Homo sapiens: one gene and its partners. The protein of the gene in region 1 interacts with the protein of each later gene in a pairwise test. Each region holds a gene or a part of one and is shown in the gene's direction. Other genes may lie near its edges. The genes, in order: ITM2B, KASH5, KLRC1 and SLC2A9.

Evidence for each region.
Region 2: the proteins of ITM2B (region 1) and KASH5 interact in binary tests that used the Homo sapiens proteins (3 or more experiments, as listed by UniProt).
Region 3: the proteins of ITM2B (region 1) and KLRC1 interact in binary tests that used the Homo sapiens proteins (3 or more experiments, as listed by UniProt).
Region 4: the proteins of ITM2B (region 1) and SLC2A9 interact in binary tests that used the Homo sapiens proteins (3 or more experiments, as listed by UniProt).

What each region holds. Positions count from the first base shown.
Region 1 is NC_000013.11:48,264,189-48,270,862, forward strand, and holds the end of ITM2B (integral membrane protein 2B), read left to right. Parts: 3' UTR 1-6,169; downstream 6,170-6,674. UniProt on the Homo sapiens protein: Plays a regulatory role in the processing of the amyloid-beta A4 precursor protein (APP) and acts as an inhibitor of the amyloid-beta peptide aggregation and fibrils deposition. Plays a role in the induction of neurite outgrowth.
Region 2 is NC_000019.10:49,405,235-49,412,256, forward strand, and holds part of KASH5 (protein KASH5), read left to right. Parts: intron 1-1,651; coding exon 1,652-1,729; intron 1,730-2,005; coding exon 2,006-2,062; intron 2,063-2,377; coding exon 2,378-2,437; intron 2,438-3,732; coding exon 3,733-3,797; intron 3,798-3,961; coding exon 3,962-4,049; intron 4,050-4,518; coding exon 4,519-4,641; intron 4,642-7,022. UniProt on the Homo sapiens protein: As a component of the LINC (LInker of Nucleoskeleton and Cytoskeleton) complex, involved in the connection between the nuclear lamina and the cytoskeleton.
Region 3 is NC_000012.12:10,450,370-10,458,206, reverse strand, and holds the start of KLRC1 (NKG2-A/NKG2-B type II integral membrane protein), read left to right. Parts: upstream 1-4,829; 5' UTR 4,830-5,009; intron 5,010-7,019; 5' UTR 7,020-7,050; coding exon 7,051-7,237; intron 7,238-7,627; coding exon 7,628-7,723; intron 7,724-7,837. UniProt on the Homo sapiens protein: Immune inhibitory receptor involved in self-nonself discrimination.
Region 4 is NC_000004.12:10,018,479-10,026,305, reverse strand, and holds the start of SLC2A9 (solute carrier family 2, facilitated glucose transporter member 9), read left to right. Parts: upstream 1-4,808; 5' UTR 4,809-4,876; coding exon 4,877-5,026; intron 5,027-5,040; exon of another isoform or gene 5,041-7,074; intron 7,075-7,232; coding exon 7,233-7,331; intron 7,332-7,827. UniProt on the Homo sapiens protein: High-capacity urate transporter, which may play a role in the urate reabsorption by proximal tubules. May have a residual high-affinity, low-capacity glucose and fructose transporter activity. Transports urate at rates 45- to 60-fold faster than glucose.

The sequences.
Region 1 (6,674 bases):
CTCTGTACAGTTGTTGACAGTGCCTTTTTTGAAACCTATCACTGCTATATGTTAGCAAGCAAACACTGATCTTGTTTTGTAATGTGTAATTGTTCACTTCTGCTTTCCCTGTATCCCTTTTTAGATTCCACACCCATATTAGTGAGAAGCAAGAAAAAAAAATGTACACAGTGTCCTAAATGTTGTTTATCTCGAATAATAGAAGTAGGAGTGTAAAACTTAAAGGCTGATTAATAATGCAAATGAAAAGGCAAATGGATTATTGAATAGAAAAGGTCTAGATTCTATGTTTGAATGTGGTTATGAATTAATATGGGCAGAATCTCTAAGATTCTGCTAAGTGAACATTTAGTAGTTTACTAGACATCTTCTCTTCCACCTAGCAAAGAGTTTGTTGCCCAGAGTTATATAAATCCTACTCTATTGCACACTAATCTTTGCATGTTTAACTCTTTGGGACTTAGGTTCCTAGATAAGGACTTCATGTGTATCTATTTAGAAAAAGAACATTTCTTCATTTCCACAAAGCTACACAGCCATCAGTTCGTTCAATATCTTGTCCAAAGTTATTGCTAGCGTTCTTCTTTCTGAGTCTTTGTGGCTAATGCTTTTTTGAGGAAGAAGCATGATTTAGTCTCAGCTCTCTATTGATCATTTTAGGCTTTTATCTTACTGAAAAAATTAAGCACAATTTAAGATTTTTTTTGAAATATTTACTGAATTTTGAGGCCATAAATTATTTCCTGATAGCACACATGTATGGGTTGTAGATTCCACACTTTTAATCTTCCAGCCACCTATTGCAGATTGGTTCTGAGAAGCAGGATGAGTGGGAGTGGGCTTAGGGGTCAAAATTGAGACCTAAGTGGTATAAAACAAGATAATCCTAGCTTCCTCCCACTTAAAATAATTTGATGGGACTTCTGTATCTGATTTTTAAGCTTGCATTTGTGTTTATATTTTCATTGTAAAAATATCAAATAATACAGTTTTTGAAGGTAAAAAGTAAATGTTCCCGCCCTTCTACCATCCTCCTTCCTCAGTCCCATTCCCCAACAGTTTAACGTGCGATACAATAATGTGTGACACAAAATGACCTAGTTCTTGCCCTAGTGACTAAGCAGATGCAAACGCCTTCTTCTTTCCAAACAGTGTGGTCTTATCCCCGTCGCAAATGGAGGATATTTAAGAAACCCAAGCCAGAAACCCCACAGTCTTCACAGTCACTGTGTCCTCCACCTCCTAGCAGCTTCCTGCTGTTCTGCTCTAGTGGTTCTCTCTGCTTCCCCACACCCACCCGTAAGCCACAACAATCTTTCCAAAACACGAACTTGATGGTTTCATTGTCACACCCCAGCTTAAAACACTTTCCTGGCTTCCCCTGGTTCTTAGGATAAAGACCAAAATACTTAATGCTGCACAGTCCAGTCCCAACCCACTCTCCAGCTTCATCTTAATCACACCCCTCTTTGCTCCTAGTGTCCTACCACATTGCCTGACTTACTGTTTCTTGGTAAATGCTATTCTTACTTCCTGAAGATTATTTCCATCTCCTCACCCGACACCCTTCAGTTAGCTTCCACTCAACCTTCAGAATTTAGTTCAGGTGACCCTTCCTCAAGAGAAGATTTTCCTGAACCATTAGGAAAGGCTTCTCTTGTTTCTCAGTCTCATAGCATCATCTGTCTCTTTTTTGTGACTTGAATATAATTAATATTTTATATTTTGTCCTTGTTGCTTGTTTGGTTAATAGATTTCCACCACTAGACTGCTCAATACGTTAGTAGGGCACCTGACACATAGTTGCAGCTCTTATTTATTGAATGAATGAATGATTCCTTCCCGTACCACCCTAGTCTTGCCCACTGTCATTTTTATTCTGGGTATTATATTTCCCAACCAGTTGTCTGACTTTCTCCTCAGATCTCATCCCCATGGGTCTGAGTGAGTTGCCTTGAATATAAGATTCAGTGATGGTGTCCTGCTGCACTTAAGAGAAAATCCTTTTTTCAAGCCCTAAAATCCTGCCCTCACTAGACTTCTCTCACCATTTCTCTGTTTGCATCCTAGCCTTTTAGTTTTGGCCTCATATAAGCTTGCAGCCCTGCCTGAAACAGTTGTCTCTGTCCCCACTCTACCCCCTGCCCTCCACAAAGAAAAGTTAACTCTTACTCATCTTTCAGATCTCAGACTAAAAGTTTCCTCAGAGATGCCACCATAGCTCTCTATTTCTCATACCTTTCATGATACTTCATCACCTGTCTTCATGAAGTCCTCCTCTAGACTATTAGCAAAATGCTCATACTGTGTCCTCAGTATTTGGCACATAATAGGTTTTCTTGACACTGAAGGAAGGAATAAACATCTGGTAACTATAGCTAGAAAAAAAGGAAATACGGTATCTACTTCACTAAAACCAAAGGGGGTTTTTTTGGGCAGACAATCTTCATTATTCAGATGGAAATTAATGTTTGTTGAATGAATGAGCTACATTTCATGGATTAACTCCATGAAATGGAGTTCAGCTAGTAAGGGTTATACTTTGAGGCTATTTCATCTTGATGGGCTTGTTGTTCAAAGTTAGAGCCTCATTTTAAGTAAAATGTTCTGTGGGGGCCATATTAAGATTTTCATATGACAGAAGTGTATATATATCCACAAATGTTTCAAGCCAAGATTATGTCTTCTTCCATAATGCCACCTTCTTCTAGGATAGTATTTTTGGGCCAGATGGTTTTCCACATTTAAAACATACCAACATTCTTTTAAGGCCCAGTGATTATCAAAAGGGATTGGCACTACATTTTAAAATGTAGGGGGGATTTTTGATTGTCACAGGACTAGAGGATGCCATTTGTATTTAGTAGATGAGGCCAGGCAGGATGCTAAATGTCTTAAAAGTCCGGGAGTCCTGCACAAAAAATTACTGCCCTTCTTGATTTGCCAATTATGCCCCTGCTGGGAAGCATGAAAGGAGAGAGAAGAGCTTTCAGAATGTCAGGGATAAATATATCCATTAAGCCTTCAGACTAAGATGCAGGAATAGTTTTCCATTTGGGTATGAATACGGCAAGTTCTTAGAACATTTCTTAAAACATAATTAGCCAAATACTAGTGTAACAGCTACAACTTATCTAGTTTTAATCAACTCCAGGGAACATTACACTTTATTTAACCCCTAATTATCTGATAACCCAAGTTCTGTCAGAAACACTGCTGAGGCATCCAGGAAGATGAGCCTGTGAAATTTGAGAATCCTTCATGTCTCTGGAATGAGTCCCTAGATTCTAGCCCTGCAGCTAGCTGACACTCTAAAAAATTATGAGTGCCTTCCTTTAGCTCCCCATAGAAATGTCTTTGTATAACCATGGCATGATATTATTCTCTTGACTTTTGTTGAGGATTGATAGAAATAAAAATGAGCCAGAAATGTTTCTTCAGCTTTTGTAAAGTGCTGTTAAAAGCATTATGTCATATCTAGTACTTCTTATCTAAGTATTTTAAAATTTAGTGTTAGGAAAATTTTTTTCACATAGGATACATGTTAATATTAGGTAGTACATCTAAAGAATTCATTTGCTTCCCTTTTGCCTTGGTTGCTGGGAAACTCAGAGCCAAACTCGGTGCTTAGATTAATTACTTTCAGCCTAGGTTTTTCTGTATATCACCCTTTCGGTAGGGCTTGAAGTAACCCTTCAGTTTGCTCATATTTTGTTGTGAGTTTTATAGATAGTTTACATGCAACGAAATGCATATATCTTAAGTGTTCAACTCAGTGAGTTTTGACACTTTTCTTTGTCCATGTTAACAATCATCAAAACATTTTCATTGCCCCAGAAAATACCATTGTGCTCCTTTCCGGCAAATATTCCTTCCCTCTGCTAAAACTACTTTTTCATTTCTATGACCATAGTTCAGTTTTTGGCTATTCTTGAACTTTATTTGAATGGAATCGTACATATATAATCTTTTTGTTTGGCTTTTAAAACTCAGTATAACGTTTTGACATTTGTCCATGTTGTTGCATGACTCAGCAGTTCTTTCTTTTCAGTTGCTGTGTAGTAGTCCATTTCTTTTGGTTTTGTGTGTGTGTGTGTGCTTTTTAAATTTATTTTTTATTTTTTTTTTTTTGAGACAGAGTCTGGCTCTGTCAACTCAGGCTGGAGTGCAGTGGCATCATCTCGGCTCACTGCAATTTCTGTCTCCCAGGCTCAAGCCATCCTCTAACCTCAGCCTCCCGAGTAGCTAAGACTCTACAGGCGTATGCCACCATACCTAGTTTGTTTTTGTTATTTTTTTTAGTACAGATGGGGTTTTGCCATGTTGTCCAGGCTGGTCTCGAACTCCTGGGCTCAAAGCAATCCACCCTCCTCGGCCTCCCAAAGTGCTAGGATTACAAGTGTGAGGCACTGTGCCCTGCCAGTATTCCATTTTTTGTGTATACCACAATTTATCATTTTTTTCTGTGTAGGTATTTTCATTGTTTCCAAGTTGGGAAGTATGAATAAAGTTGCTATGAACATGCATGTACAAGTCTTTGTAGATAGCTCATGTTTTAAAAAGTGTTTGTTTAATGATTTCATTGCAAAATCATCTTTATTGTAAACATATCTTTTTGAGGGTAGATTGGTAAAATATACATAATAAATACATGACAATGCAGGAGTCCAAGTATTATTAGGTTTACAGTCATAACAAACACCAAGAACCATTTATAAATTTCAGTTTCTCATTGTTTTAGAATGGAAGGTCTAACCAAATATGTAATGTATCCCTTCAAGTAAACTAGTATAACTTGGGTACCTTCTCATATAAATTCCCCTTAAGGCATACGTTGCTGTCTTTTCCAAATTCCCATTTTGCTTGTCCAATAGGCATTATCAGATACAACATGTTCAAAGGCAAACTTGATTTTCCTCCCATGGTTTCCTCATCTCAGCTCCTTTTTTTTTCCAGTTGCACAGGCTAAAAATAGGAAGTCATTCTAGATTCCTCTCTTTTTCATAAACCTCACATCAAATCCATCAGCCAATCTGGTGTGCTCTACCTTCAAGATACGGATTATCCAGAATTCAGCCGCTTCTCACTGTCTCTACTGCTAACATAGTAGTCAAAGCTGCTATCATCTCTTGCTTGGATTGGTGCAATGGCCTCACAACTGATCTTCCTGCTTCCATACTTGACCCCTAGAGCCTCTTCTAAACAGAGTAGCTAGAGCGATCTTTTCTAAATCTAAGCCACATCATGTCACTCCCCTGCTCAAATCCCAACATTTTATTCAGAATAAAAGTCGAACAATGCCCTACCTGTAGGTAATCTAGGCCTCCAAAGCTCTTCTTACATCACCTCCTGTAACTCTCCCCCTTTCTCACTCCTCTACAGCCACACAGCTGCCTCACTTTCCTTTGAACGTACCAAGGGCAATCCTGCTTCAGAGCCTTTGCACTTGCTGTTTCTGGGCCAGGAATTCCACACCCTCCTTCCCTCACATGTATCCCAAGGCTCACTGCCTTCCTTCAGTTAAGTCTGCTGGAATGTCACTTCATTAGGTATTGCCTGATCACCTTTTCTAAAGTGAGTCTCACCTCCACCCTCAATGCTGGCAATGTCTGTCTGTAGTGTATTCTTAACAATACAGATTAGCACAATGCAGGCCAGACCATGAAGACTGTTTCAAGTTCGAGGATGGGCAAAAATAATGACTAGGACTTGGCTCAAGATTCCTCAAACAGCCAATAAACAATGCAAAGAATAAATGAGAGAGTAATTGGAGACAAGCTTTCCCTTGGCTTCCCTTCTTTTCTCACAGAGGCTTTTCCAGAAGGTGGTCATTTCCATAGCCCATGTGGAATGAGATGTCCACTAGGGCAGAGAAGCACAGAACCGTGGGCACTGCTTCCCTTCCTTTAACCCTATCATATTGCTGCCCAGTGAGCAATATGGTCATTGGTCAAGAAGGCTTATGCCCAGGTATCCCTGTGGCTATGAGCATTGCTCCTTATCTATGCCTCTGCTCTTAGACTTTTCCATTCTGCCCTCTTAGGGGCCTTCCTGGCCATGACCACACTACCTTATTTTTCTCTATAGTACTTATCACCATCTGACATGTATTTATGTTTGTATTTGTTTATTGTCTGTCTCTACAAATAAAATGTAAATTCCCTAAAAACAGAGACTTTATTATTTTTGTTCATGTTACATCCTCAGCACCTAGTAAAGCACCTGGCACGTATTAGGAACTCACTAAATATTTACTGAATGAACTTTGTTCAATAAATTTAACATGGTTCTATGTAGCCTCCTTTTTAAAAATTGGCTCTGTTATATAGACTTCAGGGGCAACTGATAACAAACAAAACCAAACTTGGCTTTTTTCCCTTTTTTTTTTCTTTAATTGTAGTTTCAGAATTTCATCTGGGAGTGGGAATGGCCACAGGAATGCAAGTTCTGTACACCTCAGATTTGGTGCTAGTGATGTTGCCATGTTAAGAAAGTGAGCTGGGCCTTGTGCCTTCAGTAGACAGAATCAAAATCTATTACTTTATTTTAATACCCGAAGTTCAAATTACCTCTTAGGTAGGGATCCCTTAAATGTGATAGTGCTGAATCACAATGGAGGAAAAAAATGGCAAAGAGTATATTGAAATTCAGACTGATTCACAGGTAAAAGGCCT
Region 2 (7,022 bases), on another chromosome or scaffold:
TTACCTGAGGTCAGAAGGTCAAGACCACCCTGGCCAGCGTGGTGAAACCCCGTCTCTACTAAAAATACAAAAATTAGCCAGGTGTGATGGCGTGTGCCCGTAATCCCAGCTACTCTGGAGACTGAGGCAGGAGAATCGCTTGAACCTGGAAGGCGGAGGTTGCAGTGAGCCGAGATCACGCCATTGCACTCCAGCCTGGGCAACAAGAGTGAAACTCCTCTCAAAAAAAAAAAAAAAAAAGAAAGAAAAAGGAGCACAAACTTTCTAGTATGAGATGATACTGAGTTATTGTTAATTTTGTTAAGTATGATAGTGGTATTGTGGTTTTGCTAAAGGAAATAAGTCCTCAAGTAGGAGATAAATGCTGGAGTAACTACAGGTGAACTAATATGATGCCTGCAATTTGCTTTAAAGTAATCTACTTAAAACATCTGGAGGAGAGCCGGGTGCGGTGGCTCACACCTGTAGTCCCAGCACTTTGGGAGGTGGAGGCAGGTGGATCGCCTGAGGTCAGGAGTTCAAGACCAGCCTGGCCAACATAGTGAAACCCCGTCTCTACTAAAAATACAAAATTAGCTGAGCGTGGTGGCACATGCCTGTAATCCCAGCTACTTGGGAGGGTGAGGCAGGAGAATAACTTGAACCCGGGAGGCAGAGGTTGCAGTGAACCAAGATCATGCCATTGCATTCCAGCCTGGGCAACATGAGGGAAACTCCGTCTCAAAAAAAAAAAAAAAAAAAAAATTAGCTGGGTGTTGTGGCAGGTGGCTGTAATCCCAGCTACTAGGGAGGCTGAGGCAAGAGAATCACTTGAACCCAGAAGGCAAAGATTGCAGTGAACCAAGATCGCACCATTGCATGCCAGCCTGGGCAACAAAAGCAAAACTCTGGCTCAAAAAAAAAAAAAAAAAATCTGGAGGAGAAACATCTCAGTTTAAACAAAACCGAGAAAATGCATATAATTATTGAAGCTGGGTGATAGATAATGTGGATAACAGGCTGCTTATATTGTTCTTTTGATTTTAAAATTGGGGATAAGAAATGAGTCAACACATGCAAAATGCTCAGTAAGTGTTAGCGATTATTAACCTATCTAATCTTTACAGCAATCCCATAAAGTAGGTCCTAGTTAAGCTCCGTTTTTTTGTTGTTGTTTTTTCCTGAGACAGTCTCGCTCTGTCGCCCAGGCTGGAGTGCAGTGGGGCGATCTTGGCTCACTGCAACCTCCGTCTTCCCAGTTCAAGTATTTCTCCTGCCTCAGCCTCCTGAGTAGCTGGGATTACAGGCACGCACTACCATGCCCAGCTAATTTTTTTATTTTTAGTAGAGACGGGGTTTCACCATGTTGGCCAGGCTGGTCTTGAACTCCTGACCTTGTGATCCGCCCGCCTCAGCCTCCCAAAGTGCTGGGATTACAGGCGTGAGCCACTGCGCGTGGCCTAGCTCCATTTTTATAGATGGGGGAGCCACACTCAAAGAAATTAAAGCTGTGGTCCCACTGGAATGGTTGGAGGAATTAAATGGGTTAAAACATATGAAGTGCTTAGCATGAGGCCTGATGTATATCAATCAAGTGTTTAGCAAATATCTGCTGTTAATTTTGACATTACCACTTGCTGGAATGAACGTGACCAGCCATTCCTTCTTCTAGAACGGGAAGCTGCTTGCCGAGCGGGATGGAGTGAAAAAGAGAAGTCAGGAGCTGGCCATGGAGAAGGACACTTTGAAGGTGCCACTCCTTCCTAGTGCCTGACAACTTTCCACCACCCCGGGGCCATTTTTCCCATTTCCGGTTTTAGTGACTGCAGCCTGATAAGGGCAGGGTCTTCCATCAAGCTGTCAGGCTCCCAGGACCACCCAGGCATCCCTAAAATCCCTGAAGTCCTGGAACATCTCAGGAGGCTGAATACGTGGGGGTGCGAGAGAACAGGTGGGGCCAGGTGGAGGGCAGGACCAAGGGGAGTCCTGGGAGGCTGGATGGATGGACCGGCTCCTTTCTTGGCAGCGGCAGCTCTTTGAGTGTGAACACCTCATTTGCCAAAGAGACACCATCCTCTCTGAGGTAAGGGGCCCCGGGAGGGAAAGAGATTCGCTTTCCATGTGCACCAGCCACTTCCTGCCCCTGGTCTAGAAAGGGAAGTCCTACTTGGGTCTGATCCTTGGATGTGCAGCTGGAGAGACTGGAGGGTTTCCCCAGGTCCCAAGTGTGACCCCTCAGGGATCTAGAAGCCCTTCTGCCCGGTGCTCTCCCTTGTGCCCCAGCTCTTCCCTCAAGCTCACCCTGTCCCTTAACCCCCCAGCCAGTCCCCCCGCCACCACCACCCCCAGTGTCTTTGGGGAACTGGTCCCAGTCTCATTTGGCTTTCGGCTTTCCTAGCGCACTCGCGATGTGGAGAGCCTGGCCCAGACCCTGGAAGAATACAGAGTGACGACGCAGGTAACTCAGCGGCCCTCGCCACCCACCGCGGCCCTCGCCACTTCTCTTTTGCCATCTCTGGGACTTGCTGCCTCTCCTCCTCGTGCCTCTTTGTCAGTGGCCACATCTTGCTTCTTCCATCCTTGATGTATGACTGTATGACTGCATGTCTCCCCCTCTGTTTCTGTATCTGCCTTTTCACTTTTTCTCTGTTCCTTCCATTCACTTTCATTCTCTGTGGGTGTCTTCTCACACACCTCCTCTCCTTATCTTATTTTTTTTTTGAGACGGAGTCTTGCTCTGTCGCTAGGCTGGAGTGCAGTGGCACAATCTCGGCTCACTGCAACCTCTGCCTCCCAGGTTCAAGCGATTGTCCTGCCTCAGCTTCCCAAATAGCTGGGACTACAGGTGCATGCCAGCATGCCCAGCTAATTTTTGTGTTTTTAGTAGAGACGGGGTTTCACCATGTTGGCCAGGATGGTCTTGATCTCTTGACCTCGTAATCCACCCCTCTTGGCCTCCCAAAGTGCTGGGATTACAGACGTGAGCCACCACACCCAGCCTCCCCTCCTTATCTTTATGTGTCTCTGCGAGGCTCGTGTGGGTTCCTGTCTCTGCCTCTAGGTCTAGGCTGTCTGTCTCCCTAGGCAAGTCTTCTCTGTTTGGCTCTGGTCTTTACCAGTCTCTTAGCCCTCATGTTTCTCTTGCCTGTCTGTGAGTCTGTTTCCATCTATGTCTCATTTTTTCATGCATCTCTGCCTCTGCCTTCCTTCTTTTAATTGTCTTGGCTGTGCTTTTTTTTTTTCTTTCTTTTTTGAGATGGAGTCTGGCTGTGTCACCCAGGCTGGAGTGCAGTGGTGCAATCTCGGCTCACTGCAACCTCCACCTCCTGGGTTCAAGCGATTCTCCTGCCTCAGCCTCCCAAGTAGCTGGGACTACAAGCGTGTGCCACCATGCCCGGCTAATTTTTTGTATTTTTAGTAGAGACATGGTTTCACCCTGTCAGCCAGGATGGTCTCGATCTCCTGACCTTGTGATCTGCCCGCCTGGGCCTCCTGAAGTGCTGGGATTACAGGCATGAGCCACTGCGCCTGGCCTCTTGGCCTGTGCTTTAGCTTCTGGATTCCTGTTGCTCTCTCTCTTTGGCTTCCTAACATTCTGTCATGGCTTTCTTCCCCTTGTCCCTAGGCAGTATGTGTCTGGGGAGCCCAAAGTAGTCAGGAAAGGGGAAAGAACCCTGGAAGAGGAGCCCAGAGGTGGATGGGAGGGTGGGAAAAATGCAGAGCCAAATGTGCTCCCCACTTCCTCCTTTGCAGGAACTGAGGCTGGAGATTTCACGCCTGGAGGAGCAGCTGAGTCAGACCTATGAGGGGCCCGATGAGTGAGTGGAATTTCAAGGGGTAGGAGGAGGCAGGAGGGGAGCCTAAGGGCAGGGACACCCTGGCCTCCAGCCCCAAGGTGGGCAGGGAAGGGAGGCCAGCATGAGCTGACTGAGTGGCCACCAGGCACAGAGGCCATCTTCCTCCCTCCTTCCTGTGTGGCCAGGCTACCTGAAGGGGCCCAGCTGAGAAGAGTGGGCTGGACCGAGCTGCTACCCCCATCGCTGGGCTTGGAGATCGAGGCCATTCGACAGGTGGGCCTAACACCCCTGGAATAAGCTGCAGGCCACCAAGGCAGAATCTCCAAACATCTCCCTACTCTGATCCTCACACCAGCCTAGCCCTAACCCACATTGCTGCCAGAGGCTCCTATCGCAACCTTAGCTTTTCTCTAACTCTCTCTACCTCGGATCCTAACCCCAAACCCACTGCCAGACCCAGGCCTGTGCCAGACCCCAGTCTGATCCAGCTTTGACTCACCCCTATCTCGTCTCCCTCCATGACCATCTCACTCCTTAACTTCATCTCGAACCTAGACCTTGGTCCTGGCACCAAATCCTCCCCTGTTCCTGCTTCTGCCCACTCCCCAACCCCAGCCCCACACCAGCCCTTTTCTATCTCTCATCCTATTTTCAGCCGCACACCTAAACCTATTTCTATCTCTGACCTTGTTTTCTACCTTAATATGGCTCTCCCTGACCTCGGAAACAACTTCTGTCCCAGAAACAGGAAGTGGCAACTGCTGATCTCTCCAACCCTCTGTGTGGGGTGTGGCAGTGGGAGGAAGTCATCCATGAGACCAGTGAGGAAACTGAGTTTCCATCTGAAGCCCCAGCTGGGGGACAGGTGAGCACAGGAAAAGCTCTGAAGTCCAGGAGCTGGAAAGGGGCCAGGAGCTCCAGGTGCCGCCCTGGCCAGCCCATTCACTCACACTTTTGCTTGTTCCCCATTTGATGAGAAAATGTTAATTGAGGGCCCAGTGTGTGCTGGACACCCAGCCACAAGCCAGACCAGACACCACCCCTACCCCAGGGACTGACCTGCCAGCGTTGTAGACAAAGGTGAACCAAGCAAACACACAAGTTGCACTGTGGCTTTTATTGTTGGTTTGTTTTTTAGAAAACACTCTTGGGAATTACATTATTTAAAATCGTACTACTGTAGGAAGGGAATAAGTAAGTTGTTTATTCCAGCATTTTAAGGATATATTAAGCATTTATGTTTCAAATGTTAGCACCTTTAAGAAAAGCCAGCAAGCTCACTATGACATCTTTAACTCAGCAATAACCATTGGGGTTTTTTTTGTTTTTTGTTTTTAGAGACAGGATCTTGTCTTATTCTGTTGCCAAGGCTGGAGTGAACTTGACTCACTGCAGCCTCAATCTCCTGGATAAGCAATCCTCCCACCTCAGCCTCCCAAGTAGCTGGGATTACAGGAACACACCACCATGACTGGCTTTTTTTTTTTTTTTGAGATGGAGTCTCACTCTGTCACCCAGGCTGGAGTGCAGTGGCACGATCTCAGCTCACTGCAACCTCCACCTCCCAGGTTCAAGCAGTTCTCCCTGCCTCAGCCTCCCAAGCAGCTGGGATTACAGGAACCTGCTGCCACACCTGGCTAATTTTTGTATTTTTTTTAGTAGAGACGGGGTTTCGCCATGTTGGCCAGGCTGGTCTTGAACTCCTGATCTTAGGTGATCTGCCCGCCTCGGCCTCCGAAAGTGCTGGGATTACAGGCATGAGCCACCATGCCCAGCCTTTTTAAAATTTTTTTATAGAGTTGAGATCTCACTGTGTTGTCCAGACTGGTCTCAAACTCCTGGGCTCAAACTGTCCTCCTACCTCAGCCTCCCAAAGTGCTGGGATTACAAGCATGAGCCACTGCACCTGGCTTTTTTTTTTTTAATTAATTAATTTATTTTGAGACGGTCTCACTCGCTTCTCTGTTGCCCCGGCTGGGGTGCAGTGGCATTATCACAGCTCACTGCAGCCTCAATCTCCCTGGACTCAGGTGATCCTCCCATCTCAGCCTCCCAAGTAGCTGCAACCACAGGCATGTGCCACCATGTGTAGCTAAATTTTCTATTTTTTGTAGAAATGAGGTCTCCCTGTGTTGCCCAGTCTGGCTGAACTCCTGGGGTCAAGTGATCCGCCTACCTCAGTCTCCTAGAGTGCTGGGATTACAGGCATGAGCCACTGCTCTGGGCTCTCTCTCTATTTTTTTTTTTTCTTTTAAAGAAAATGTTGTAAACAGCTCTATAAACAAGCTGTATTGTCTTGAGAACTGCACCACTTCAAAGCTCTTTGCCATCCTTAAGGAGAGACTCATTTCTCTGATCACTTTTTCCCTGGTTTGAGAAAAGCTTTTGTTTCTCTTTGACACCAGAGCTTGTTTGGGTTCTCATTTAACTCTCCCAGTATCTCTGTAAGGCAGGCATCCTCATCTTGTTACTCATGGGAAACTGAGGCTCAGGGAGAAATCACATGCCAATGGTCACACAGCTTGTTGGGGACAGAGCCTCATCCCTCAGAAGTGTAGGTTAGATTGGGCTTCTGCTTTGAGCTGTCAGATGCCCCTGAGAGACAGGCTTGTCAAGGGGAAGACTGAGCCAGGCCTCAGAGTGCAACCTGCGATGGGCCCAGGGATACAGAGCTGAGTCCCTTGGGGCCGGGCCTCTCAGTGCTCAAGGCCTGATAGGAGAGACCCTGCAAATGGGTTGCCCCAGTGCAGAATGATCATTGTGCTAGAGGTGGGGGATGGGCCTGTGGGAGCCCAGAGAAGGGGTATCTGTGTCAGGTCAGAGATTGGGGAAGATATTGAAGGAAAACTGATACTTGAGTGGAAGGAAGGAAGGAAGGAAGGATGGAAGGAGGGAGGGAGGGAAGGAGGGAAGGAAGGAAGGAAGGAAGGAAGGAAGGAAGGAAGGAAGGAAGGAAGGAAGGAAAGAAGGAAGCCAGCCTTTGAGGCACTAGCACAGCCTGTGCAAGGCCTTGGCATAAAATCACGATATGCTTGAGGAGTAGAGGGTAACTAGGGGTGACTAGTGAGAGATGAGGCCAGGGCCAGATCATGAAAGGAAATCTCTGACAAGCTAACAGATTGTACTTTTCTTCATAAAGCCACAAGAAGGGTGGGGTCAGCTCCGGGCTTAAAAAGATCCCTCTGGAACCATGTGAGGGACCTACTGGAGGCAGGGAGGAGGCTGGAGCAATGGTGATGAAGCCTG
Region 3 (7,837 bases), on another chromosome or scaffold:
TCCCATGACCACAGAAAACTAGGACGTGAACACACCAGAGTGAGGTTAAGACAGGAAGTTTAATGGGCAAAAGAAAGAGAAGAGATCTCTGCCCAGGGATGGGTACTGGAGAAATGGGTTGCTGCTTCTGCAGTGAAATGTAGAAGGTTTTATAGATGAGCTTGAGGGGGCAGTGTCTGATTTACATAGGGCACGAAAGATTGGTCGGACTAGGCATGCCATTTGCATAGCGCTTAAAGAAGCTGGCCACTCAACCCTAGTCTTTTATTATGCAGATGGTTGTCTACCTGGCCTGTGCCATGTTGCCTGGTTCTTTATTAGTGACAAAGAAAAGGGAAGATGGAGCCTCCAGGTTGAAAATGCCTGGCTTCCAGTCAGCCCCTTTTCTATTGGCACAGCTGCCAGCATGCACACATGCAAGTCTCCAGCCTGCTTATCTATGTCTGCTGCTTCATTTTTCAGGCTGCTCTTTGTTAGAAAAGAAGTTATTTGGGGCTGCTTTTTGTTAAAAGGGAAGCCTTGCTGAGAATTCCTTTACCCTCACTATCTGCCTAAATAATTTCTTTCTCGTTCCTGTATCACTAGTGTAACTGTCTAGCCATGTGCAGAAGAGTTAAAATGGACCCTTACCTTTCACCATATAGAAGAATTAACTCAAGATAATTAAAATTTTAAATGTGATACCTCAATCTGTAAAAATTTTAGAAGAACACCTAGGAAATACCTTTCTCAACATCAGCCTTGGCAAACAATTTTTTGGCTATGTCCTTAAAAGCAAGGGCAATAAAAACAAAAATTGACAAATGAGACCTAAACTAAAAAGCTTCTGCACAGCAAAATAAACTATTAATGAAATATACAGACAACCTACAGAGTGGGAAAAATTATTTGCAAACTATGCATCTGACAAAGGTCTAATATCCAGAATCTATAAGGAATTTAAACAGAACAACAAGGAAAAACAATAACCTCATTTAAAAATGGGCACAGGACATAAACAGACACTCCTTAAAAGAAGACATACAAGTATCCAGCAAGCATATTAAAAAACACTTATCATCACTAATCAACAGAGAAATGCAAATCAAAACCACAGTAAGATACCATCTTACACTAGTCAGAATGACCACTATTTAAAAGTCCAAAAACAACAGATGCTGATGAGGCTGCAGAAAAAAGAAAATGCTAATACACTATTGGTGGGAATGTAAACTAGCCTAACCGCTGTGGAAAGTAGTTTGGAGATTTCTCATAATACTTCAAACAGAGCTACCATTTGACCCTCAATTGCACTACTGGGAATATAACCAAATGAAAATAGATCATTATATCAAAAAGACGCATGCACTCACATTTTTATCACAGCACTATTCACAACAGCAAAGATATGGAATCAACTTATGTGCTCATCAGTGGTGGACTGGATAAAGAAAATGTGGCATATATACACCATGGACTAGTACTCAGCCATAAAAAAGATAAAACCATGTCCTCTACAGCAACATGGACAGAGCTGGAGGCCATAATCCTAAGCAAATTAATGCAGGAACAGAAAACCAACTACTGAAGGTTCTCACTTATAAGTGGGAGCTAAACACTGAGCACCCTTAGACGTAAATATGGGAACAAAAGACACTGCAGACTACTAGAGGGGAGAGGAGAGCAGGGAAGAATGGTTCAGAAAACTACCTACTTTGGATTATACTCACTATTCTGGTATAATATACCCATGTAACAAACCAGCACATGTACTCCCTGTATCTAAAAATAAAAGTTGAAAGAAAAAAAATTGGAAAAATTCTCAAGGACAGTTGACTGGCCAAAGATTTTTTGAGTAATACCCCACAATCACAGGAAACCAAAGCAAAAATGGACAAACGAGATCACATTAAGCTAAAAAATAAACAAAACCCCCCCACGAGATTCTCTTATCTTAGACTTTTGACAATTTGATTATATTATGCCTCATAATAGTCTTTTCTGGGCTGATCTTGCTCATGATTCATTGAGCTTCATGAATCTGGATTTCCATATCCTTCCCAAGTGAGGAAGGTTTTCAGACAGTATGTCTTTAAAGAAAAAATATTTTTGACTTTTTATGTCTCTCTTCTCCTTCTGAAGTTTCTATACTTTCTATACCATATTCTTGGTGGTGTCTCAAAGGTCTCATGCTTTCTTTGCCACTTTTTATTCTTTTTTTACTCTAATTTGTTAATTTTAAAAGACTCTTTTTTTGAGTTCACTAATTCCTCTGCATGATTGAGTCGGGCATTAAAACTCTCTATTGACTTATTTATTTCTTTCATTGTGTTCTTCAGCTCCAGAATTTTTGTTTGGTTCTTTTTAATAGTTTATATTTCTTTATTAAATTTTTATTTTGTTCATGTATTTTTTGTTTTAGTTGTATTTTTTGTTTACTCTTTTCTTTTGCATCTCACTGAGATTTTTTAAGATGATTGTTTTGAATTACTTTAAAGGAAACTTATAGATCTCCATTTATTTGGATCAGTTGCTAAAGCTTTATTAGTTTCCTTTGGTGGTGTCATATTTGTCTGATGCTTTGTTATTTGTTTATCCTTGTACTGATGTCTGTGCATTTGAAAGAGCAGACTCTCTTTCAGTCTTTACAGACTGGTTTCGGTAGGTTAAAAGCTTCTCCTGTTAGTGTCCTGGGCTGATGAGATTGCCTTCAGTATCATGGTTGAATGGGGTTACAGCCAGATCACATGGTTGCTTACGGGTCCAGAGTGGGATCTTTGGTTCATGATCCTTTTACTAGGGCTTCTAGCAGGCTTGTATCCTATTTAGTGCCTCAGAGGGCCAAACTGGCTCTAGAATCATACTGTATAGGGCTGGGGAGGGGATGAGGGTCCACTTCAAGGTCTGTAAATGGTGGGTCTATTATTAGGTGTGTAGTTGGGGAAGAGTTTATCTAGTTTGCTGGGAAGGCTGCTCATGGGTCTCTGAGTGGGTTCCTCAACCTGTGGCACAGAGGAGTTAGTGCTAAGTCACAAGGTTTCCTCGGGGTCTATAGCTGAAACCAGTGTCTTCATGTCTGTCTCTGGGGTCATGGTTGAGTGTGTTTTCTGGCAGGTCTGTGGGCAGGCAGATTTGCCTCAGACTGTAGTTGAGTTGGGCTGGAGCTGGATCCAGAATTGTTTCAAGATCTGAAATAAAACTAAGGTCTGTGCCTGCAGGGGCACTAATGATGTCTCTCTCCAGGTCCCTGTATGGGCAAACTGCTCTCTAGCATAGCTGAGAAGTGTCGAAGCCCCTTTTCTGTCCAATTAAAGGATCTGCTGTGAAACCTAGGTCAATGGTCTCCTAGTTGGGACATGGATGCACATGTCCTCCCTCTGTATCCCTGAGCTGGCAAGACTGCTCACAGTCCACAGCTGAGAAGGGTGAAGGTCAAGATTCAAGGCTGTTTCAGAAACTACCGTGGAACTGAAGTCAGCAAGCCTGTACTGCTGACAAAGATGATTGAGTCTCACAGCAATTTCCTGTGATTAACTCAGGTCACAGTTGAGAGGAGTTTGAGTGGAGATTCAGGGCCATTTTAGTATCTTCTGTAGGACAGAGGTCAGCAAGCATGCCCCAGAGGTACAGATGTATATGTCTCCCAGGAAGTCTCTGTGGGTGAAGGACTGATCTCAAGTTGTGGCTGACACTAGTTAAAGCCAAGTTAGAGGGCTGTTTCAGGGTCTACATTGAGACTACAGTTGATATGCCTACCTCCTGAGACACTAGTGTGTGAGTCTCCTCCTGGGCCCCTGGGCAAATGGTTTTGGCAGCATGACCAAGGCCTAAATGGGGCTGAAGGCAAGCACAGGAGGATGGGTCCCTTTTCAGGTCTGGAGATGGAATCACTGTTGGTAAGTCTGCCACTTGGATGCAAATCTATTCCCTAAAACAACCTTCCTAGGTCTTGGGTTCCACTGGCATTTTACAAACTCCTACTTGAATTCCAAACTCCCTCAAAGGAACTTTTGTCTGTGGATGGCTGAAAAATTATTGTTGCTGTGGGGGCATATGTGTGGGGGACCACCTATTCTGCCAATTTACTGACTTTCCTCCTAGTAAGATTTTAAAATTACTTTTTCCCCATACATAGTTTGACTTCAGTTTTTGTCATTTACAACTAAATATTTCTATGAAAGTCGACATAATTTGTTATGGCGGAGGATGAATAAATGAAGAATGTAATGAATAGCTATTTAATATTTCAATTTCTGGTATGCTAATATATTTCAAAATTGATTAATATTTTACCTATCCAAGATATTTTTATCAAGGGTAATCTGAAGATTAAATAATCTATTTTTAAAAATTAAGTGCAAAAATTTAAGAACTAAGAGAAGTTAATAATATAACTTTGGCAATGATGCTTTTTGTGCCAGCTACAATCAATTGAGTAATTACTGCAGTAATTTTTCAGAATAATTAAGGAAAAAATCAGTAGATATCAGTTGATAATATTACTATGAGTTTTAGAATGTTTTCTATTATAATGGAAGTGACATAATAAAATAATATAAAGAAAAGAAGTATGCAATGTTAAGATTTAGCAACCTAGTCTAAAAGGCACTCTTAACAAGGTGAGGGTTGACAATGTTCGTGATCAAGACAGAAAAAAAAAAAATTCTCATAGGCACTTGAAAAATGAACCAACTAAATGACACACTTTCAAAGTCAACCTTGTACTTTTAATAGACCAAGTATCCTATATTTTGGAGGTGTGTGATGAGATAAAACTGATTTCACAATAGCCCATGTGTAGAATTTCCTGTTCAAACCTTAGTAACACGTTGATGAGAAATCTACTTTTTCCACTCTTGACTCACTCTGAGCCTTCACAGGGCAGTCTGCGAAGATTGCAGGCATTGTTTGTTCTTGTCTTGGATTTATGCCTTTAAATTTCACCTTTTATTACACAGCTATAGCAGGCCTTTTTATGAGACTAACCTGGCCTCTCCACTAAAGGATGTGTGACTTTCTGGGGACAGAAGGTATGTATTGCTACTCTCCAACTCTCTACTAGCCTACCTCATTTAGTGGGTGATTTCAAGTGCTCAATATGATACAAAGGAGGTATAATTAATATACAATAAAATCAAAGTAGAATATTGCTGTCTTCATTTGAATAACTCAGGGTAAAAACCTAAAATATGAAATATGTTGAAGGATTTCTTAAAGTTTTCAAATTATTGTTTGTGGAAATCTAGTGGGTTTGTTGATCAATATCGTTTAAGGGAAAGCTATTAACATCACAATAATGAACAATTAATTTTGTATTTTGTAATCAGTACATCATGTATCTTTGAATAATAATTTATATTTAGCTTAGCCATTAAAGATTATTAAAATAAATCAATCAATTGATGAAAGCCAAATACAATTCCTCAGACACGTAGATTAGAGAAAAGCAGTTTTTATTTTTAATAAAAATCAGAATGAGGTAGATTACATAAAATGCTAAAGGTATTACAAAGCAATAAAAATACTTTTTAAAAATTGATCAAAATATTGCAAAAAAAGATGTAGCGCATGGACATAGGAGACTTATCTGAAGATTTATTTTCCATGCTTTAACTGACATGAATCAGAAACAGTAACATAACAATTGTGACTAAAATAATAATTAAAGTAGCTAATGCTTATTGAGAACTTTAAGTGCCAGGTTGAGTGGTAAATGTTTTACATGCAACGTTTTATATGTTCTTATGCCCATTTTAGATTAACAAACTGGGTTATTAAAAATAGAATAACTTTTTAAAGGTCGCACATTATAAGTGTCAAAGCTAGAATTAATTCTAGATCTCACTGACTCCAGAGCCCATTGACTAAATGATTTAATTACATTATCTGAAATTTTACAAGTACTTATACAACTAAAGTGGCCTTTACTCACTTTGACAACCATAAAATCATTCTATAAGTTTAAATGAAATGTGCTTTAACATGAATTACCTATACTTTTATTTATCATTTTTTGGTTCATAATTTAGCCAGGAAATAAATTACCAATTACTAATTAAATTACCAATACTTCTGTAAGTATTAACAATTTATGTAGTGTTCCTAATACTATTTAGGTTATGCATAAGTTAACTGTGTCACATAGCATTTTCTGTCATATACAAATATTTAATTTTTTATAATTTTTAATAAATAATTTTTAATAATTTCTTAGAACATTTCAGCCATTAAGAAAAGACCATTTAATTACCTCTATTGATTTTCATTAATGTGTATAAATTACTAATTAAAAGTAATGTAGTGCAAGAAATTTTTATATATATATATGTCAACTTTACTATTACTCATGTGCAGACCACATAGTCTTAACCATTACTGGATTTCAAAATTAACATAAAAATGAGTGCAGAAGTTTTTCTAATACAACATTTTAATTTTTAACACAGGTAAAACATCAGACTTTAAGAAATATATTTTTATTCCTGAACTTCTTTATTCCTTAGTAATTTATTGCTTCTCATTGCCCCAGCAATAATATTTTGTCAAATGCAGAAAATTTATCTTTTTTTTTTGAGTCGGAGTCTCACTCTGTCGCCCAGGCTGGAGTGCAGTGGCACAATCTCCGCTCACTGCAACCTCTGCCGCCCATGTTCAAGAGATTCTCCTGCCTCAGCCTCCCGAGTAGCTAGGACTACAGGCGCCTGACATCATGCCCGACTACTTTTTGTATTTTTAGTAGAGACGGAGTTTCACCGTGTTAGCCAGGATGGTCTCGATCTCCTGACCTCGTGATCGGCATGCCTCGGCCTCCCAAAGTGCTGGGATTACAGGCGTGAGCCACCGCGCCCGGCCTAAAAATCTTTTTTTAAAACAAATATTCATAAGAAACGTGTTTAGGCTTGAAGAAAATCAGAGAAAGAACTTTAGATTATTTAATGCAAAATGAGCTCCAATACTCGTTCTCCACCTCACCCTTTTAATTGCACTAGGGAATCCTGTATATAAACCATTTATTAACTTCTTAACTACTGTTATTATAGAGTACAGTCCCTGACATCACACACTGCAGAGATGGATAACCAAGGAGTAATCTACTCAGACCTGAATCTGCCCCCAAACCCAAAGAGGCAGCAACGAAAACCTAAAGGCAATAAAAACTCCATTTTAGCAACTGAACAGGAAATAACCTATGCGGAATTAAACCTTCAAAAAGCTTCTCAGGATTTTCAAGGGAATGACAAAACCTATCACTGCAAAGGTAAAGCATTTAAAAGATCCTCAATATAACAGTCTAGGATGTGCAGCTTGGGGTACAGGAATGTGGGGAAAGAGAAGGGAGTGCTCATATATCTTCTATTTGCAAAGATCAGAATTCCAAGTTGAGATATGCTATTTCAATGTAAAGTATGAAGACTGATTGAACTCATTGTTGAAGTTTGTAGTCTTTGTCAAATAATTCATGGAGCATTATTTTTCCTGAAAATTCAATGGTATATTATTCTGAGAAAAAGATTACAATGGGAGATGAGGGTTTGGGGTCCAAGTTTCTCTGTATGATTCCTGTGCATTCAGGTTCTCTTGTCTGTGAATCTTCTAAACGACTGTATCCACCTCTCCTTTCGCACTGTTCCCATTTCTCTCCCTGCAGATTTACCATCAGCTCCAGAGAAGCTCATTGTTGGGATCCTGGGAATTATCTGTCTTATCTTAATGGCCTCTGTGGTAACGATAGTTGTTATTCCCTGTAAGTCTATTTTCGAAGATTACAAGGGGAATTTTCACGTTAATGATTGAATGTGCCTCTAAACATTTCATATTTTCAGGGAATAGAGTTCTCATTGTAATGTATATATTTGGA
Region 4 (7,827 bases), on another chromosome or scaffold:
AGCCCGGGGAGATCCAACACAGAGAGATAAATTGATGATGCAGAAGAGGAATGGGATCATTGCCTGTATTTAATAATCAACAAGGCAAGTGTGGGAAGCCCTGCACTCAAAAATAGAGAAACTGAGGACAGAGGAGAGCAGGGAGATGCCCAAGCGAGGATGCTGCTGTGTCCTATCCTGGCATCCCAGCCAGAGCTCCTCACAGCAAACCTTTCGAAGACTGCTCCAGGCCACCTCCCCTGACTTGCACATCTGAGAAAGCAGCTGTCTAATGGCTTCTTTCTTTTTCTCTTTCTCAGAAACAATAACAACAAAAGTTCAAAACCTGAAAAGTGAACCATGAAGCTCAGTAAAAAGGACCGAGGAGAAGATGAAGAAAGTGATTCAGCGAAAAAGAAATTGGTCAGTCCTTTTTTTTTTCTGTCTCCCTTACATGATTATTCCGGTCACCCAGGGGGTAGTACCCCTTTCCCCTGGGTCAGTGGGAGGCTGTTAAGGTGAAGCTGGGCAGAGAAAAGAGTGAGCAGCAGCTGAAAGCCAAGTTCTATGGGAAGGAGCCATGGGGATTGTAGAGTGTCTGGGATGAGGCTCAGAAGAGTGAAATTGACAGTCCTGATCTGCTGGTGACTTTCTGGGCTTGGGGCAAAAGTCTCCATTACAAAGGTCATTTCTCAACAAGGGGACATTGATGTTGACAATGATTATGTCATCATCGTTAAAGATACACTAAAACCCACCCCTTAATCCATCACAAAGCTTAGTCGACCTGCCCCTTCCTCCAGGAAGTCCTCAGCTCCTATTAATAGAATGACTTTCTTTCTTCTTGGGACTCATCAGATGCTCTTTTTAAACCTGATTCAAGAACCAACAGCCAGAGAGTGCCTACTCTGTGCTGGACCTTTACATAGGGCTCTCATTTAAAGAGAGACTCTTTACATGGTTCTCTCTGGATCAAACCATGCTGAAGGCATCACTGGCCCTATTTTACAGGCGATGAACTGAGGCTCAGAAAGGGATGAAGCCACTTGTCCAAGGCTATGTGGCTAGTACAGGTTTGAGCCCTTCTTAAACCTTGGATTATCTGTGCCTCACCTCCTGTGATGGGTGTGGAAGCTACTGTGACTCCAGGGAAAATTTATTTGTATTTATAATAAACCTGTATTTGGTAGGACAGAGATCAACACAAGTCCATTTACCAAGTTGTCAAGAAGGTGTGAAATTGGCAAGCTGAACATCATTGTCCCCACAGAGGTGTGAAATGGAGGATAAGGGTGCAGTCACCTGTTTGAGGTTACCCAAGACCCCACGCAAGAATAATGTCAAATAGACAGCAGTTCCCTCTAAGTGGACGCTATATCTTTTCTTGGTGCTTACATTAGGTGAGTCAAGGATCTACTGTCTAAGTATTTGGTGTAATGAAGGAAGGGATGTAGTCATTTCAAACATTCTGCTTAAATGATACTCAATAGAAAACCCCCCTTCTTTTCCAACTCTTCCCTGCTAGAAAACTTCCACCTTGTCCAAGACAACTTTTTAGCCTTAGGAAATCATCCGGAGGACAGTTTAAGGTCAGTTCCAGAAGTGATGCCTATCTACTGGACCCTGTCCCTGAGCCAGGCTGAAGGAAGTCTAGGAATACAAAGAGGCTTAGGACACTGTGGGTTTGCTGGGGCTGCCAAGACAAAGTCCCATAGACTGGGCAGCTTAAACAACAGAAATGTATTGTCTCACAGTCTTAGAAACCAGAAGTCCAAGCTCAGAGTGTCAGCAGGTTAGTTCCTTCTGAAGCCTCCCTTCTTGGCAGAAGTGGCTGCCTTCTCCCTGCGTCCTCACGTGGTCATCCCTCTGTGTGTGTCTGTGTCCTCATTTCCTCTTCCTATAAGGACACCAGGCATACTGGAATACAGCCCCATGCATATGACTTCATTTAACCTTAATTACCTCTTCAAAAACCCTATCTCCAAATACAGTCACATTGTCAGGTACTTGGGGTGAGGACTTCAACATGTGAATCTGAGGGGACACAATCAGCCCATTGAGACGCACACCATCCCTGCCCACAGTGAGCTCCCGTGCAGAGGGGAAGGCACACGTGAGCAGCAGCACACGTGCAGAGGGGAAGGCACACATGGAGCACAGAGGCAGCGAGAGGTTGGGGAGGCTGCTGGGAGGAGGTGGCGAGAGAGTTAAGTGCTGAAGGGTGAGCACAGTTCAGGGCAGTCAGAAGTGAGGGCCTGAGCAAGGTCAGGAGAACCTGAATGAGTAGGAGCTTCATAAAGACAGGCAAGTAATGACTGAATGAAGGAACCAGTGAGTGTCAGAGCAGGCAGAACGTGCCCCAGCCCAGAACATCTGGGGATGTTTGTCTTATGACTTCATCTGTGATAGGAGTCGCTTCCTTAGCAGTTGCCTGCAGTGCAGGGCCGATGGCCCTGTGGAATGGGGAACCAGCCCTCGCTTTGGAGGCAGGCTCCTCCATGCTCCCCCTGAACTTCAGTTGCCCCGAAATGTAGGTCTGATAGTTCCTCTGAGGACTAAACGATATCATGAAGGTGAACACACTTGGGAAAGCCCTGTGCACATGTAACATGAGCTGTGCACATGTAGTAGGAGCTGAAGGTGAGGCAAGTGCTGTGGCTACCAGGAACCCTGGTTAGCTACCATCTGGATCCGGGAGGGACCCATCTCCGCTCTTTTACTTTCTGTCCAGCTGTAGCTGCACATTCATGTCCACTGCCTAATTTCTGGTTCCTTTTGAGTTTTCAAACCCAACAGAGGACTACGAAGCAATTTTTAACGGGATGAGGGGACACCTGATCCAATTTGAGCTTTAGCAAAATCTGGTGAGGTCCCCACTGTTACAGATGAGGAAACAGGGAGGGTATAGAGAGGGGAGTCACAGCAATGGGATGAGGAGGGGTAAATGAGATGATGAAAATGCAGTCCCTATCAGGACAGCATAGGGGCAGAGGGGCCCTCCATGCACAGGGATGCAGCTGTCCCTGCCCCTCCTCTGCCCATCTCCTGTACTTCAGGCCCCAACCATGCTTCACTGACAATTTCACTTCCTCCCACACACTGCAGGCATCTGTGCCTGCAGGCCTTGGCTCCTTGTCCTCTCACCCCGTATCCTTCTCTGTCCGCTCAGAAGCCGCCTCTTCCAGCGGGGTCTCCAAGATCCAGCTGAGATTGATGTGGTGCCTCCTCCACACTGTCCTGGGGAATCCTCCGCCTTTTTAGGTCATGTTATAATTAAGGATTTGCACATCAGAATGCTGCTCTAGGCCCACCACTCAATGAGGAAACCAGGCTGCATAGCTGAAATCCAGTTCAAGAAACAGCCACTTCTCCCGGGGCATGCCTGACTGATTAACACACAGAAGGACGATTGCACTGAATGACTGGCGTGCTCAATACATCCCCAACCTAACTCCTGAGGGTGGTTTTCCTCTTTGGAAGTCTTGATTCCCCACTTGCTTTGAGCAGCCACATTCCCACCACCGTGCATGTCAGGGCCGGACGTTTCCACGTGCGTTTCACATTCCAGGTTCCTGGAATGTCTGCCGTACTCCACACCTTTTATTTTATTGTGTGCTTTTTACTAAACGTACTTTGCTAACTTTTCGATCTCTCTTTTGTGGACTGAGCCCTACCTTGCCTCCTGGACGTTCTGCATTCACCAAGCCTGTCCCTGGCTCTGGCCCAGACTCTGCACTGCTCTCTGCTTCTGGGAGCAAACTGTTCTAGCCAAAATTGAAGGTGCTTCTCTGGCGTCTGAGGCAACATGGCCATGTGATGAACTGATTCCCACAACCTCCTGGTGTGCATGAGGCCCTTGCCTTCTCAGTACTGTCCTTGAGCCAGCCTGGGGCTGGAATACAGGACATGTCCCCTCAGCCAGTGCTGAATGAGCAGGACAGAGTAACGACTAAGAGGCAAATTCTTTTTCTTCCAAACCCACAGCCCTCGCCTTTGTTCTAGGCTACAGGAGAGCCCACACTCATTTACAGCACGCCACTTGGGGCTGGCTGTTTTCTATTTGAGCTTCAGAATAAGTCTGCAGGACAGTCAGAGTGGGGTCAATATTCCATTTTGCAGTGGTAGAAGTTGCAGCTCAGAGAATAAAGTGACTTGCCTGAGGACACACAGTTAAAAAGTGGAGGAGTTGGCCAGACATGGTGGCTTACGCCTCTAATTCCAGCACTTTGGGAGGCTGAGGTGGGCAGATCACCTGAGGTAAGGAGGTCAAGACCAGCCTGGCCAACATGGTGAAACACAGTCTCTACTAAAAATACAAAAATCAGCCAGGCGTGGTGGCACACGCCTATAGTTCCAGCTACTTGGGAGGCTGAGGCAGGAGAATTGCTTGAACCCAGGTGCGGAGGTTGCAGTGAGCAGAGATTGCATCAGTGCACTCCAGCCCGGGCAACAGAGCAAGATTCGGTCAAAAAAAAAAAAAAAAAGTGGAAGAGTCAGGGGCAGAGCTGTATGCAGGCTTCTGAGTCAAAGTCAGCCACCTCTCCATTCTGTTCCAAGCATTAGGGAGGTATCCTAGGTTAATGGCAGTCACCCTGCTCCAGGCTTTGTTACCAGAGAAAAATAAAAAGATGCTAAGAAAAAAAAAAAAAATTCCACCCCCTGGGTGGCAATCCTGGAGAGGACAGATTTCCCTTTTTGGACTGTTTCATTGCTGTAATAACTTAGGAGCAGAGAAAAAAATGTTGCCCCGTTGCCTGTTCAGGCATGATCAAATTGCCACACTTCCTGTCAGGAACTCCCGCCCTCCTTCCAGTGGACTCTGCCTCCTCACTCACGGAAATGCCTTGGCAGAGTCTGGGGTCCCTGGACTGAGCCATCAGCTGGGTCACTGAGACCCATGGCAAGGAAACAAAATAGGAATTCCAAGGAACTGGGCCTAGTTCCCCTCACAGATGACACCAGCCACGCCGGGCCTCCAGGGCCAGGGAGGGCACTGCTGGAGTGTGACCACCTGAGGAGTGGGGTGCCAGGTGGAAGGAGAAGAAAGGTAACTACGGACAGCTTTTCTGCATGGCTGGCGGGCTGTGGGGAAGGCAGGCCTGGGTGGCAGCCGTGTGACAGTGCTCAGCCCCAGCCTGGCAGCGTGTAGCTGGGGGATCTGGGGCTTTGAGGCAGGGAGGCCTCAGTTTGAGTTGCACTTCTCCATCTGTGTGACTTTGGCATGCTCTCTCCAAGCCCCAGCTGACTGGGCCAACAGCGTCTCTGGTAGACTGGGTGTGTACATGGAATGAGGCTATGGTGGCAGGCTGCCCTGCCCCGCACTTGCATGGTGGTGTCCCTCTTCTCACCCTCCCCAGGGCATGGCACGGGCAGCAGCACCGTCGGTCAGTGGGCACCCTCTGCCCGTGCAGTGAGTGGGGAGCGGGTGGAGGGCACAGGCGGGCCACACAGGCAGGGGGCTCCGGGGAGCACAGCTGAGGCAGGAGAAGATGGCCCCCACCTGCCCTTCACCAGCCTCTGGCAGGGGCACTTCACACCAGGTGCTCCCAATCTGATGGGGTGCAGACCAGGGAGGAGTTTGTGTCCTCTAAGGTCATCGGGGCTGGGAGCAAAGAAGGCACAGAGCACAGAAACGATGCCCAGCACAGCCCAGGGGCTCAGAAGAAGTGGTATCTGTGCCGAGACTCAGAGGATAGGTTTAAAGAGAAAGAGTGATAGAGAACAGGCGTTTCATCTGAAATGTGATTCTGTTCCATCAGGGATCCCCATTCAGCTCAAGCTCCTCTCACTGCAGAAAAATATTCTGGTACTACATTTCAATTGGCAGCACCCATCCCCAAGGCTTATAAATGTTCCCTCTTGCCCCCGCATGTGATCAGCAGCCTCTACGGAGCACCTCCTCTGCAGCAGGCTCCTCAACAACATATGTGGCCAGTGCTGCTATTAAGATCCCATTTCACAGGTGGGCAAGCTGAGCCCCAGAAAAGTCAAGTCACTTGCTCAGACTCCTACAGCTGAGGGGACTGGCCCTGGAGGTAAAGCTGATATCACTTGGCTCAAAGCCCCAAAGCTCTATCTCGTGGCTGGTGGCACTAGAGGAGACAAACGAGACTGGCAGAGCAGGTAAGTGGCCATCAAGAGACCCGCATTCCCTTCCAGACGGGATTTGACTGATATGGGTCCCTGAACCATGGATCCATATGTCTTCTTCACTGTTGCACCCCCACAGCTTTGTCAGGGCCTGGCGCCTACAACACACACACACACACACACACACACACACACACTCACAAATATGTCAAATGATGGCAAAGAAGGTGCCTTCCGGAGCACCTGGCCCCTGTCCACTTGGCCTGTATTCCCTGACCAGCTGAGGACAGCCATCCCTCCTGCCCTGGCTCATGCCAGCTTGTCAGCCTTTGCCAGGGATCCAGGTGTTTCTGCCCTATGGCCCTGTACTGGTGGTGGCTGTCCTTAGATGGGGCTGCAGGGCAGGACAACACCAAGGCAGGCGCCCTGTTCTCTGTGCCAAACCTTGCATCTCTACGTCTGCAGGTCCTTGTCCTGAGGCTTGGACCAGCCCCTGTAGTTTGACGCCTCAGACTGGAACAGTATGTGCATGTAAGCGTGTGTGCACATCTGTCTGGCTGTCGGCAGTCTCAGGCCCTTGGACAACGGCACTCAGGTGACGGGTCAGCAGGGGACAGTGCAGTGGTGACTAGAGGGGCACTGCAGCCAGGCCACCTGGACTTCAGTCCCCATCCTAGACAGCACCAGCCACGCTCCCTGCCCCTCTTTCCTCACCTGTAATACAGGACATAACAGCACTGATCTAAGGACTCAGAGACAATGCGCAGAAAAGTGCTTAGAATCACGCCTGGCTGATAGCGCTTGGAGTCTGGCTTTGCTTTTTTCTGTCTGGGTCGGACACTCGCCAACTTCGCTGAAAGGATCGTGTGGAGCTGCCCAGAGCAGCTGCTGAAAACTGCGTTTCAGGAATCCTCACGCAACCCGGAAGGAACGCAAGGGCGTGGCCGCTAAACCTGAGGGCGCCCGGCCTGCGCACGCGGACCTGGACTGGAACCCTACTTGCAGGTCCCCAACTTGCGTCTCTTCTCTCTGTCTCTACCCCAGCCAAGGACAAAGACTTCTCCTCCGGAAGGCCTCCCCCAGCTGAGGGAACGTTCCAGGTCTTCCCTCGGCCCTGGCTGCGCGCCCGGTGCCGGCTCTGACGTGGTTTCCTCTCCCCTCAGGACTGGTCCTGCTCGCTCCTCGTGGCCTCCCTCGCGGGCGCCTTCGGCTCCTCCTTCCTCTACGGCTACAACCTGTCGGTGGTGAATGCCCCCACCCCGGTGAGTGCGCGCCAAGGCCCGGCAGAGGGCGCTGCGGCCCTGCGGAAACCTTCGGGTGCGCAAGGGCCCTGGGCTCCAGCGCCCCCTCCTGTTGCGCTCGCGGCGCGGGACACCGCGGGGACAGAGATTAGCCCCCACTCGGGGGAGAGGGGAGGCACAGAGACAGACAATGATGACACGGGGACAGGGGCGGGGGATGACAGTTCTTGCGGCTGGAGGGCGGGTGTCCTGGGAGAACGTTGGGAGACTAGATGAGAGGGGGCTTCGGAAGTCCCGGGGTGGGGTGGGGGGCGATCCTCTGGCCCCTAATGCCGGGGAAAGAACCAGGAGGGGCCTTATGCATGGAAACTTGGACATTTTCTTGATTTGTTTTGTTGTTGTTGTTATCTATCTATCTATCTATCTATCTATCTATCTATCTATCTATCATCTTTGAGATGGAGTCTCACTCTGTCACCAGGCTGGAGTGCAGTGGTGCGATCTCGGCTCACTGCAA